Homo sapiens: one gene and its partners. The protein of the gene in region 3 purifies or fractionates together with the protein of the main gene of each other region. This does not show direct contact. Each region holds a gene or a part of one and is shown on either strand. Other genes may lie near its edges.

Region 1 (3,755 bases), on a different chromosome or scaffold from region 3:
TACTTTCTTCTTACAATAAATTATAAATACTTTTTCCACATATCAAAGTTCGTCAAAGAACTCCCAAAATTAATCTTCTTCATTCTTCAGGAATTATTTATTCACACAGCAGACCACCTACAGAAAAATATTTATTTTAGAAAGTCAGATTTCAAACATCATGCCAGATCTATGGAGTCAGGGAATTAAGACCACTAGAAATGAATGCCTCAGATGAGTAATTAACTAATTGCCAGAATTATTCCAAATCAGTCATAAAATTCAAAATCAACATTTTAAAATTCTAGGTTTGCCTAACTAAAAACATTAGTGAAATTATTCATGATATTATTTACTCTTTAAAAGTTTTTGAAGTAAAAACTCTCTCTGCGTGTATATATATATAATACATATGTGTGTGTTTGAGAAATACATATTTCTCAAAAATATCCTCCAAAAAAGGCTAAAGCAGTTATTTTTACAGATATTCAAGAAACAAGACCTGCAAACCCCTCTTTGCTGATTCAAGTATGCCTGGCGAAGATCCACAAAGTAGAAGGCAGAAGGTCAGCTCAGTACCCAAGGCACTTCCTGTGGAAAGTTACTCACTTAATCCCAAAGGCAAGACAAGGGCAACCCTTTAATATTCATTTGGAAAAATCAAAAAGGGAGAGTAGCATAGATAGGGTTGCTGATCCAGTCAAGTCAATACCAGGCTTCTCACACCTCTCCCAGTGCCTATCCCAGAAGATTGAGAACAATGCTAGGAAGGTAATTAAATTGGGGTAGCTAACTCTTCAAGTCTAATGCAAATATTTCCTTCATTTAGCTGTTCACTTCATTTGGTTTAAATAAAGATAAACCACATCAAGATACAAACATCTAAACTCTTTTCTAAAAGACTCAAAGGAAGAATACATTTATAGAAAAGTTTGGAAAGATAACCAAAAACGAAGCCATTCAACCTTTCAATTATAGCAGCCCATAGCATTGTTACGACTTTTGCGACTGACTACATAACAAAAGGGGCTGTGTGGTGGAAGACCCTGGATTTAAACCTGTTTGATTATATCTCTGGATGTAAAGTCTTTGACTGGAGGGATAATCTTTCTCTCCTCAGTATTTTCCAGGGTCTTAATAAATATCTGCTGAATGAACAAATGTTTGAATGGCAGAAATTATTCTTTCTGGATTATCTTGGGATATTTTCATACATGATCAGTTTTGTGTGTGTGTGTGTGTGTGTGTGTGTGTGTGTGTACAATTCAGCATATTTTAAGCATCCAACTGTTAAGTTGTTAAACTTAATATTGAGTATCACCACTATTCAGTACTAGTCCTTTAATTTCTTTCAACGACTTTAGTCTCCAAAATAGGTTCTTTAGGCTTCTTCTGTCTCCTAAAGGCAGGAAGATAGTAGCCATCTATTTCCTCATATTTCTAATGAGGTTCTAGGTTCTTCTAATTACTCTTTTCAGTAAAAGCAGCAGTCATAAAATAGAAAAAAATTGTCTAAAATCACCACCATACCTATTTTTTCTTGAGTTTTCAAGTCTCTGCCTTTGCTACTACTAAATTTTCAGATACTTTATGCCTAGCATTATCCCTGCTATTCATCTTCAACTTAGGCCAGTGGTTGTTAAAGAGGAGTGCACTTGAAAATCATCTAGGAGTTTCTCAGTCAACAGGTGCAGACCAGGGCCCAAGTTGTGAATTCTGGAAAACATTCTTCAGATGATTCTGAGGTGCACCTCTGGGTAAGAACCACTGGGTGAATGTAGCCTACTTTCAGGTAAGGTATAAAAAATGTATAATAGATTTATTCCCAATCTACTGCACTTGAGGTACAATTAAGATCTACTTAGGAATAACATTAAAATCTACAAAGGTTTTTGAATTAAGGAACTTTCATGATCGTTGCCAGAGAGATCTAAGTTTGCAAAATATTTTTCCTTTGAAGCTATTCTCAGAAAAATGTGATCTAACAGTCTAAGAAATACCGATTTAGGTTAAGTTTATCTTATAGCAATGCAGACAGTTGTGTTGGATTTCACCCTCCAGCCAATGGCCTGTTTACTGGGTTATATGCAACTGTACATTTCCGCAACAAGTCTTTCTAATTAGCATTCATAATGAGGTTTTAAGATTGAAGATCAAGATTATGTGCAATCCTAAAAATGAATATGTTGGAATAAAATCTCATTAAGTACAAGGCGTGAAGTGTAAAGTGCCTGTGATTTAGAGAATATAAAAATCTTAACTCTAATCTAATTCTACCACTATCCACTCCTAACTTGAGCAAGTCTTTTTTGACTTCACTGTGCTTCCATTTCCCCATGGAGGTTGGGGAAATAGGACACCTGGGACCAATAAGGATCCAACACCCAGTCCTCTTCCCAAAATATTATTACACTGAAAATGAAAAACATGGCAGTTTGAATTCTCAGAAGGGTCCTATATGGATTCAGATTGTTCTTCTTGTAACCAGGATTCAATAATAATCAAGTCATATACTTAACAGACCTCAACTGAATGTCTGCTATCCACAACTCTAAAGGTATGAGCTATTCTGTTCTGGTTTTTACAGATGATTTATTTTACATTGAATCATCACAACTCTATGAAGTAGTTTGGGCATGTATTATTGTCTCCATTTTACGGATGAGGAAACCAAGGTACAGAAAGTTAAGGACCTGCCCAAGACCACACAATCAGTTAAGCAGTAGATTTTCTAAGTCTAAAGCTTTTGCATTTTCTTTTACACACAAATGAAGTACACAAACATAATTCTCACTCTCTGCCCTGATAACATAAAGAAAACTATGATATCATATGATACTTTTGAATATATGCCACTTATAACAATTGTACCACCTTTGTGGTTCAGATGAAGTCCAAGATAAGCTTTTGATATTCCTAAAATTAGCATTTCTTTTTATTTAATCACCCCTTTTTATCAAGGCAAGTTCAGCACAAGCCTACAGCTTACACAACTGACGAGGGAGTTAGATCATGAACAAGGAAACCATGTACAAATGTTAAGGTTGCATCTTTAAAAATAGTTAATAAAGTACACATACTTTTTAAGAACACACTCCCCTTCAAATTTACTTATTTTATAAAATAGTTCATTATGGGATTTCTTTAAATAACCATCTATTCTAAAAGCAACTTAAGTATATCATTTACACAACAGTAGATATACCATACTATATATAGAATCACAAAATGTATTATGGTTCTCTTTTTATAAATAATAAGTGAAATTCAGAGGAGTAATGTCTTGATGAAGCTAAATGTAGCTAAACTTAAAAACATGATAAACTAAACATCAGGAGAATAAAAACAAAGCCTCAGGACTTTCAGCCTAGACTGTTTTCCATTACACAGTAACTTCTTATCAGCTTGCGACAAGTTCCTTATCCCTCCTTTTTTATAGCTCAGTGAGGAAGACTGGCCATATGTGAAATTCCAAAGAGGCAGGAAAGAGGTGCAAGGGAAAGAAGCCAGGCTCTCTAGTACTAATATATTGGCATATGGCTTTGGCATTCTCTCTCAGCTGTTATTAAGTTAAAAGTGGTAGTGTGGTGTGGAAGTTAGGGTAGGGGCAAAAAGCAGAGGGAATCGGCATGGAGACTGAGGCTCCAGTTCTGATACTGCACAACCCACCTTGGGGGCCATTTCATAACTATAAGCTTTAATTTCCTTATTTATTCATTCATTTAACAATCCTCCATTAAGCACCTACTATGAGCCAGGCACTGTTATAGGTAGTG
Region 2 (3,655 bases), on a different chromosome or scaffold from region 3:
AGAATGACATTGGAATTTGACAGCGGTTGCATTTAATCTGTAGAATGCTTTGAGTAGCATTGAAATTTTGACAATATTAATTTTTTCAATTGATATAGGACTTTTTCTATTTGTCACTTTCAATTTCTTTCATCAATGTGCTATAATTTTCAGTATACAAATCGTTCACATCCTTCATTAAAATTACTCCTTGCTCTTTGATTTACTTATATATTTGTTTTGTTGCTATTATAAATGGAATTACCTTATTTTTCAGATAACAGTTTGTCATTGGTGTATAGAAGCCAATGTTAATTTTGTAACTCTCAACTTTATTGAATATAGTGTTTATCAGCTGTAATGGGTTTTTTGTGGAGTCTAAAACACAGACAATCTCACCCCTTCCCTTCCTATTTAGATGCCTTTCCTTTCTTTGCCTTGTATAATTACTCTGGCAAGTCAGTTACATATAACGTTCTCAGCATTTGTAATTTGACATCAAATCCATCTGTTGTAATACACTGATTGTTACTTTTCAACTCGAAAACATGGACATTTATCACTACTCTCCCTTTCTCTTGGTCTAGTTGTTATTTAAAAAAAAACCTATCAATGCAAACCAGGATATTTTTCTACAAAACAATTTCAAACACACTAAAAGGTTTTAATCTAACAATTTTTAAACTTTCTTTGTCAATGACTTTGAACTGTGGTCTCTCGGAACAAATCCAACACCTTTAGTAGAAAAATTATGTTAATTCCTACATTATCATTGGGTCTAGCCAAGAGTTGACCAAAGGTGATATTAACAGATATGCTTATTTATTACCTTGTTCTCAAAGTTCTAGCATAAGTCTTGAAAAATCTAGTAAAAATTTGTAAAGACTATAATTGCACAAACTCCCTCTCTCATGAGTCACACAGTTAATCCAGAATACTATTTCTAAGTTATTGGAAAGCCAACAAGTAAATATGATGTAGTGTATAAAAATAATCCTAATTTCATTGTATATTCTGTAAGTGACATATGCAATTGATACTATTTACTAAATATCTCATAATTATATTTATTTACATAGAAAAAAGGAATAAAAAACATATCTATTATCTAACATTTAAATGATTAAAAATACTTGAGATAGCATTGCTACATAAATGCTATGTAAATGCTGAAGAAAGTAAAAATGTCATTCCCTACATTTGCTAAATATATTGTGACACATTATAAGCATTTTTAAAATATATCACTAATGGTTGGGTCAAGTCAGCAAAAATGATTCTAAGTATTTAATTGTGGAAAAATTTAGTACAGGGGATAGTATTCATGTGATGGAAGGATTTTAAATGGAACCCAGAGATTAGCAGCAGCAGTAAGTTTTAATTGCATACCAGGTGCAGAGTCTAGGATACAAGACAGAACTGCAGATAAAATCTGACTCCTTCCAGCATAGCTAGGAGACATGGCTAACTCCACCTGTCCGGAGACCTTACCTAGAAATCTAACGGCTCCAAACCAGGTAAACAAAACTATTTTCCAAAGTCAAAGCATCAATTTATGACATTAAAGCACTTCTAAAACTTAACCTCTGACTTAAGTTAGACCAAATGGATAAATTTTGAAGATATTTTTATTTTACCACTGACTTTAACACCATCTTTATTTCCCAAAGATTACTGAAGTCACATGAAATAAAAGGCATTAGAGCTTCTATTTTTCTTACAAAATATTTAAGAGCTTTCATTTTCTTTTAAGCCGAGCCATTATATATACATCACATACACAACACTTCTAGACAAGAAAAGATCTAGCAGTTGTTCAGTTTTTCTTTCCCACTTTATGAATCATAACACAACTTCCACAGACTATCTACAACATGATTAAATTTATCTGACCTGTCCTGTATTTCCCTCTTTTGTAATTAGTCATTCTACTTTAGGACAACAATTTGCCATATAAGATCCTCTCTCATATAACATTTCTTTCCTTCATAACATTTCTTACAATAAATACATCTTCATATCCACAATTTTCTTTAGATCTCTCTCCCCTACTAATTTCTGATGCCCATCCAAACCAAAAAGGTCAGACAACGCAAGGCAAAACAGAGCAGAGCCTTAGATTTTTGAGAGGGACCTGTCTGCTTAAAGTTCTTGGGGTTCCATGAGGAAAACAGAGGTTTCTCCTAAAATGGGGTTTGTGGAACCTTCTGTTTTTCCTTAAGGAGTCCCAGGTTGTCAGAAATTACCTTAGATCCTCTCATGTGGGCATCAAGAGTGGCAACAAGAGAGACTGGGGTAATAATTCAGACAACTGAGCAGAAAAAGAAAAACTTACTACTGTCCCCACTGTAATGATGGATAAACTGAGGCACCATGCAGTTCAAAAATTCATGTTCACATAATTAGGATCCACAGCTCACTCTCTTAAATAATTTTGCCACCTCTATGCCCAGTCACTGATGCACCTGTATGGTAGCTCATGGCCCCCTTGGAACTTAGAACCTGGGTTTCATTCCTGCTCTACGGCTATATAATTCAACAATTTTCCTTTGAATTTGTTGGACTCTAACCCTGTATATCTCAAATTTTATTAGTATTACTGAATCTTAAAGGGAGCTGTGACGTCTTTAGTCTTTAGAAATATTAAACCTATAAACAAGGACTATATGAGGTTAAACAGTATTCAAATTTCTATATGCTTTAAAACATGGACACAATGTATTGAGAAACACACCTACAAAACTGCACCCCATCAACTCTGGACAAAAATTTAGATATTATCTCTTCAATATAACCTATCTAGTGGTATTTATACATATTCTTCCATGTATCAACGGTATATTACATGCTCATAACCTTAAAAATAACAAGTGTTCAAATTATAGGCCTTACACATTTCTACGGGCTTGAAAAATGATACAATATAGATTGTCTTTAAAGCAGTCAAGAAAATGCATAAACTTCTAGAGGAATCAGTAAAATAAAGATAAAAAGTTCACACCTAAAGTAGTAATACTAGGAATAAAAGAGGGCTCGACACTGCAGGTTCTTAGATACAAAAGTTAATAAAGCCTTGTTTTTGGTTGTGAATCTTTGCCTTAAAATACACACAGCTGACCGAGGTGGGTGGATCACCTGAGGTCAGGTGTTCTAGGCCAGCCTGGCCAACAGGGTGAAACCCCATCTCTACTAAAAATACAAAAAGTAGCCGGGCGTGGTGGCAGGCACCTATAATCCCAGCTACTCAGGGGGCCAAGGCAGGAGAACTGCTTTCACCCAGGAGGCAGGGGTTGCAGTGAGCCAAGATCGGGCCATCGTACTACAGCCTGGGGGACAAGAGCGAGACTTCATCTCAAAAAAAAAAAAAATTACACACAATTCTCCCGACTTCCTTTTTCTCTTGCAAAGAGGTGGTGATGAACCAGGTTTGCTCAGGCAGATGACAATACTCTTGAAAATGGTGGCAGAGAGCCAGGCGTGGTGGCTCACACCTCCAATCCCAGCACTTTGGGAAGCTGAGACAGGTGGATCACTTGAAGTCGGGAGTTCAAGACCAGCCTGACCAACATAGAGAAAACCCATCTCTATTAAAAACACAAAGTTAGCTGGGCATGGTGGCACATGCCTGCAATCCCAGTTACTCAGGAGGCTGAGGCAGGAGACTTGCTTGAACCCA
Region 3 (3,755 bases):
TGGCATGCATATTCCCATTGCAGTGCTCTATTCCCAGAGAAATATTTTTCTTGTAGGGACCCTCTCTCTGTTATTTAGGTTGACAGTCACTAAGGATTTACTATTTCAACAATACTAGCACTGCATGTCATCCAGTATACACTGGGAAAATAAAGTGCCGCAAGTGCATATCCAGGAGACTTTGTGGCCACCAGATTATGAGGAATGCATGTATTTAATTATTTATTTTTGGGACAGAGTCTGTCTCTGTCGCCCAGGCTATAGTGCAGTGGCACCATCTTGGCTCACTGCATTCTCCACCTCCCAGGTTCAAGGGATTCTCAGGCCTCCCAAGCAGCGGGGACTATAGGTACGTGCCATCATGCCTCGCTAATTTTTGGATTTTTAGCAGAGACAGGGTTTCACCATGTTGGCCAGGCTGGTCTCAAACCCCTAAGCTCAAGTGATCTACCTGCCTCGGCCTCCCAAAGTGCTGGGATTACAGGTGTGAGACACCATGCCCGGCCCATGCATTATTATTAATGTTGAAGTAGATAATTTAACAAACATCAATGAAGTATAAGATTTTTCACTCATAGTTGCAAAATATCATGCCAATTGCCTTCTATGAGCTGTCATAAGCCACAGCCTAGAGATTCAATTCCATTTCAAGATTCAACCAAAGCCAACTCATCAACAAGAACATGTAAAAGACAGAAAAACCCACTACCGGCAGGCTGAAACAGATGCTGTGACGTGGCCCTGGCCTGTCATGGCGTGTCACAGCATGGCACAGGCCTATATCATGTTCCCTAGATTGCTGACTACCAACTAGTTACAGCTGACTCCAATCAGGTCGGGATTTGACCATCTCTGCACTGAACCTGCAATTGCAACTTTTAAAATTGAAACGCTGCTTCTCACCTCTCCTCCCTAGACTCTATTTCACAGAGGAAACCATCACAGGGAAAGCAAGCCCTTGTTTTTTCTTCCTTCTTTGCTTTGCTTTCTTTCTCTCCTTCCTTCTTTCTTTCCTTCCTCCCTCCCTCCCTCCCTCCCTCCTTCCTTCCTTCCTTCCTTCCTTCCTTCTTTCCTTTCTTCCTTCCTGCCTTCCCTTCTTTCTTTCTTTTTTTTGAGACAGGGTCTCACTGTCTGTCGCCCAGGCTGGAGTGCAGTGGCATGATCTAGGCTCATTGCAACCTCCGCCTCCCAGGTTCAAGTGATTCTCCTTTCTCAGCCTCCCAAGTAGCTGGGATTGCAGATACGTGCCCCCACGCCCGGCTAATTTTTGTATTTTTAGTAGAGGCAGGGTTTCACTATGTTGGCCAGACTTCTTTCCCTCCCTCCTCCAACTCTTCTTTTCTTCCTTGCTGTCTCCCTCCCTACCTTCCAACTTTTGGCTGTGTTGAATTTGTTGACTCATCCTGAACAAGCAGAAACTCCAATGATACTGTCACCTAAGAGAGAACTTTGCACAAGGTTGCCATGTTTAATAATTCATTCACAGAATCCTCAATCTCACAAAAGCCTGGAATGGATTTCCTGTTTGGTTATGGCAGGGAAGCTACTGTGGCCAGGCTCCAACTCCTCCCACTGTAGATAGCAGCAGCCTTCTTAAGCAGCCTGTGGCCGGGCACAGTAGCTCACACCTGTAATCCCAGCACTTTGGAAGGCCGAGGTGGGCGGATCACCTGAGCTCAGGAGTTTGAGACCAGCCTGTCTCTACTAACAATATAAAAATTAGCTGGGAGTCACGGTGGGCGCCTGTAATCCCAGCTACTCGGGAGGCTGAGGCAGGAGAATTGCTTGAACCCAGGAGACAGAGGTTGTAGTGAGCTGAGATCGCACCACTGCACTCTAGCCTTGGCAACAGTGCAAGACTGTCTCAAAAACAGCAACAGAGAGCAGGACGTGAGACTTCTACCTGCTCACTCAGAATCATTTCTGCACCAACCATGGCCACGTTTGTGGAGCTCAGTACCAAAGCCAAGATGCCCATTGTGGGCCTGGGCACTTGGAAGGTAAATATGCAAATCTTTGCACACCCTTCTTCTCTGGAGGGGCGTTTGGGTGTTTTCTCTTTCTGCATTCAGCCAGGAAAGCCTGGAGGTCGGGCAGGGGTTGGAGAGGTAAGATTCAGCCCTGGAGCCAGGACTTAGGTTGCTTTCTTTTCTCAGAGCTGATTCAGGCTGCAAAGCTCCAAGGCTGGCTTTCCCAGCAGTGATGAGAGCTTCTCTAGCAAGTATCAAATTTCAAGCAGCTGTTGGACTTAAAACTGTTTTCCAGGGCAGTTTCTCTCTCTGGTTCTAGGACACTTAATTGGGCTCAACGTTTCCCCCAAGTCTTGGCTGTGGGTTTGTTGTGGGCTGGGTGGTTGAGGAGAGGATGCAGAGCCCGAAGTCCTTGGCACCCCTTTGCAGATCACGGTGTGAGACTTGGGCTAGCAGCATCCCTATGACCTGGAAACTTGCTAGAAATGCAAACTGGCCAGGTGTGGTGGCTTATCCCTGTAATCCCAGCACTTTGGGAAATCCAGACGGGAGGGTTGCTTGAGCCCAGGAGTTGGAGACCAGCCTGGGCAACATGGCAAGAATCCATTTCTACAAAAAATAAATAAATTTTCTGGGCATGGTGGCACGCACCTGTAGTCCCAGCCACTTGGGAGGCTGAGGTGGAGATTGAGTGTTGAGCCTGAGGGGTCAAGGCTGCAATGAGCAGTGATTGTGCCACTGCACTCCAGTCTGGGCAACAGAGTGAGATCCAAGAAAGCAAGAAAGAGAGAAAGAGAGAGAGAGAAAGAAAGAGAGACAGAGAGAAACAAAATGCAGAGTCTCAGGCTCCAACCCAGGCTACCTAATGGGCATCTGCACTTTAACAAGATCCCTACGTGGTTCCTGTACACATTGAAATCTGCAACATGCTGGGGCTGCAGAGAGCCTGGGCTGGGAGTCGTGAGCACCACCCGGCTGTGTTAACGACAGCTGGCAAAATGTGGTAAGGCACATCCAGGACTCAGTGAGGCAGGTTCCCGAGCCTCTGTTAGGCTAAGTTTCAAGTTGTTCCATCACCACCTCCCTCTGCCTTCTTTGCCATTTCCATCCATGATAGCACTACCCTAACTAGTGATGAGAAGCAGTCTTTGGAGTTCCTCTTCTCTCCTGTCCCTCATGGCTAATGTCCCTGCTGAGACTTCTGCCTCTGGCTCTCTTTCCTTCTGTGCACCCTGATTTTTCTTCTCTTCTGTCCCAAGCTAGAGGTTAGGACCCTCTGCTGCAGCACTGGGTCATCCTCAGGATACATTCTTGGTGTATCTGGAGGAACAGATCACTTCCAGCTTGATTCATGCAGAGCGTCTCTTGCTTGAATAGCAAGATTTGCCCAAAATCAGACCTTCAATCCTGTATAAACAGAATAAATAATCACTTCCAGATCTCCAGGGAATCTACTCACCCTGGGTGAGTTTACCAGACAGTTTCATAATTTTGGAATTGAATGAAAGAATTATGAAGGGAGCTGTCTTCAACACGTGGGGATGATAGACTAAAGGATTATGAACTTAGCAGTGGAGGTGAAGAAGGGTGTAGCGTAGCGGTTGGGGGCACAGGGCTGCTTCTGGGTGCCTGGCAGCAGCTCGTTTCTTGTCCAGGTGGTAGGGTAGCTGTGCATCTCTGTTTTGTGTACTGTTCAATGTTTGTTATCTCACAATTGAAGAGGTTTAAAAGACCATTTTGTGAGAGATCAAGTTTTAAGTGCTTTTTTGCCCCCATCATTGGCTT

The links.
Region 1: the proteins of AKR1B10 (region 3) and COX17 fractionate together in Homo sapiens (co-fractionation; one large-scale study listed by BioGRID). This does not show direct contact.
Region 2: the proteins of AKR1B10 (region 3) and POTEF purify together in Homo sapiens (affinity purification with mass spectrometry; 3 studies listed by BioGRID and IntAct, with this or other methods). This does not show direct contact.

The regions. Positions count from the first base shown.
Region 1 is NC_000003.12:119,669,549-119,673,303, forward strand, and holds part of COX17 (cytochrome c oxidase copper chaperone), read right to left. Parts: intron 118-3,755; 3' UTR 1-117.
Region 2 is NC_000002.12:130,122,574-130,126,228, forward strand, and holds part of POTEF (POTE ankyrin domain family member F), read right to left. Parts: intron 1-3,655.
Region 3 is NC_000007.14:134,525,978-134,529,732, forward strand, and holds the start of AKR1B10 (aldo-keto reductase family 1 member B10), read left to right. Parts: upstream 1-1,589; 5' UTR 1,590-1,934; coding exon 1,935-2,000; intron 2,001-3,755. UniProt on the Homo sapiens protein: Catalyzes the NADPH-dependent reduction of a wide variety of carbonyl-containing compounds to their corresponding alcohols. Displays strong enzymatic activity toward all-trans-retinal, 9-cis-retinal, and 13-cis-retinal.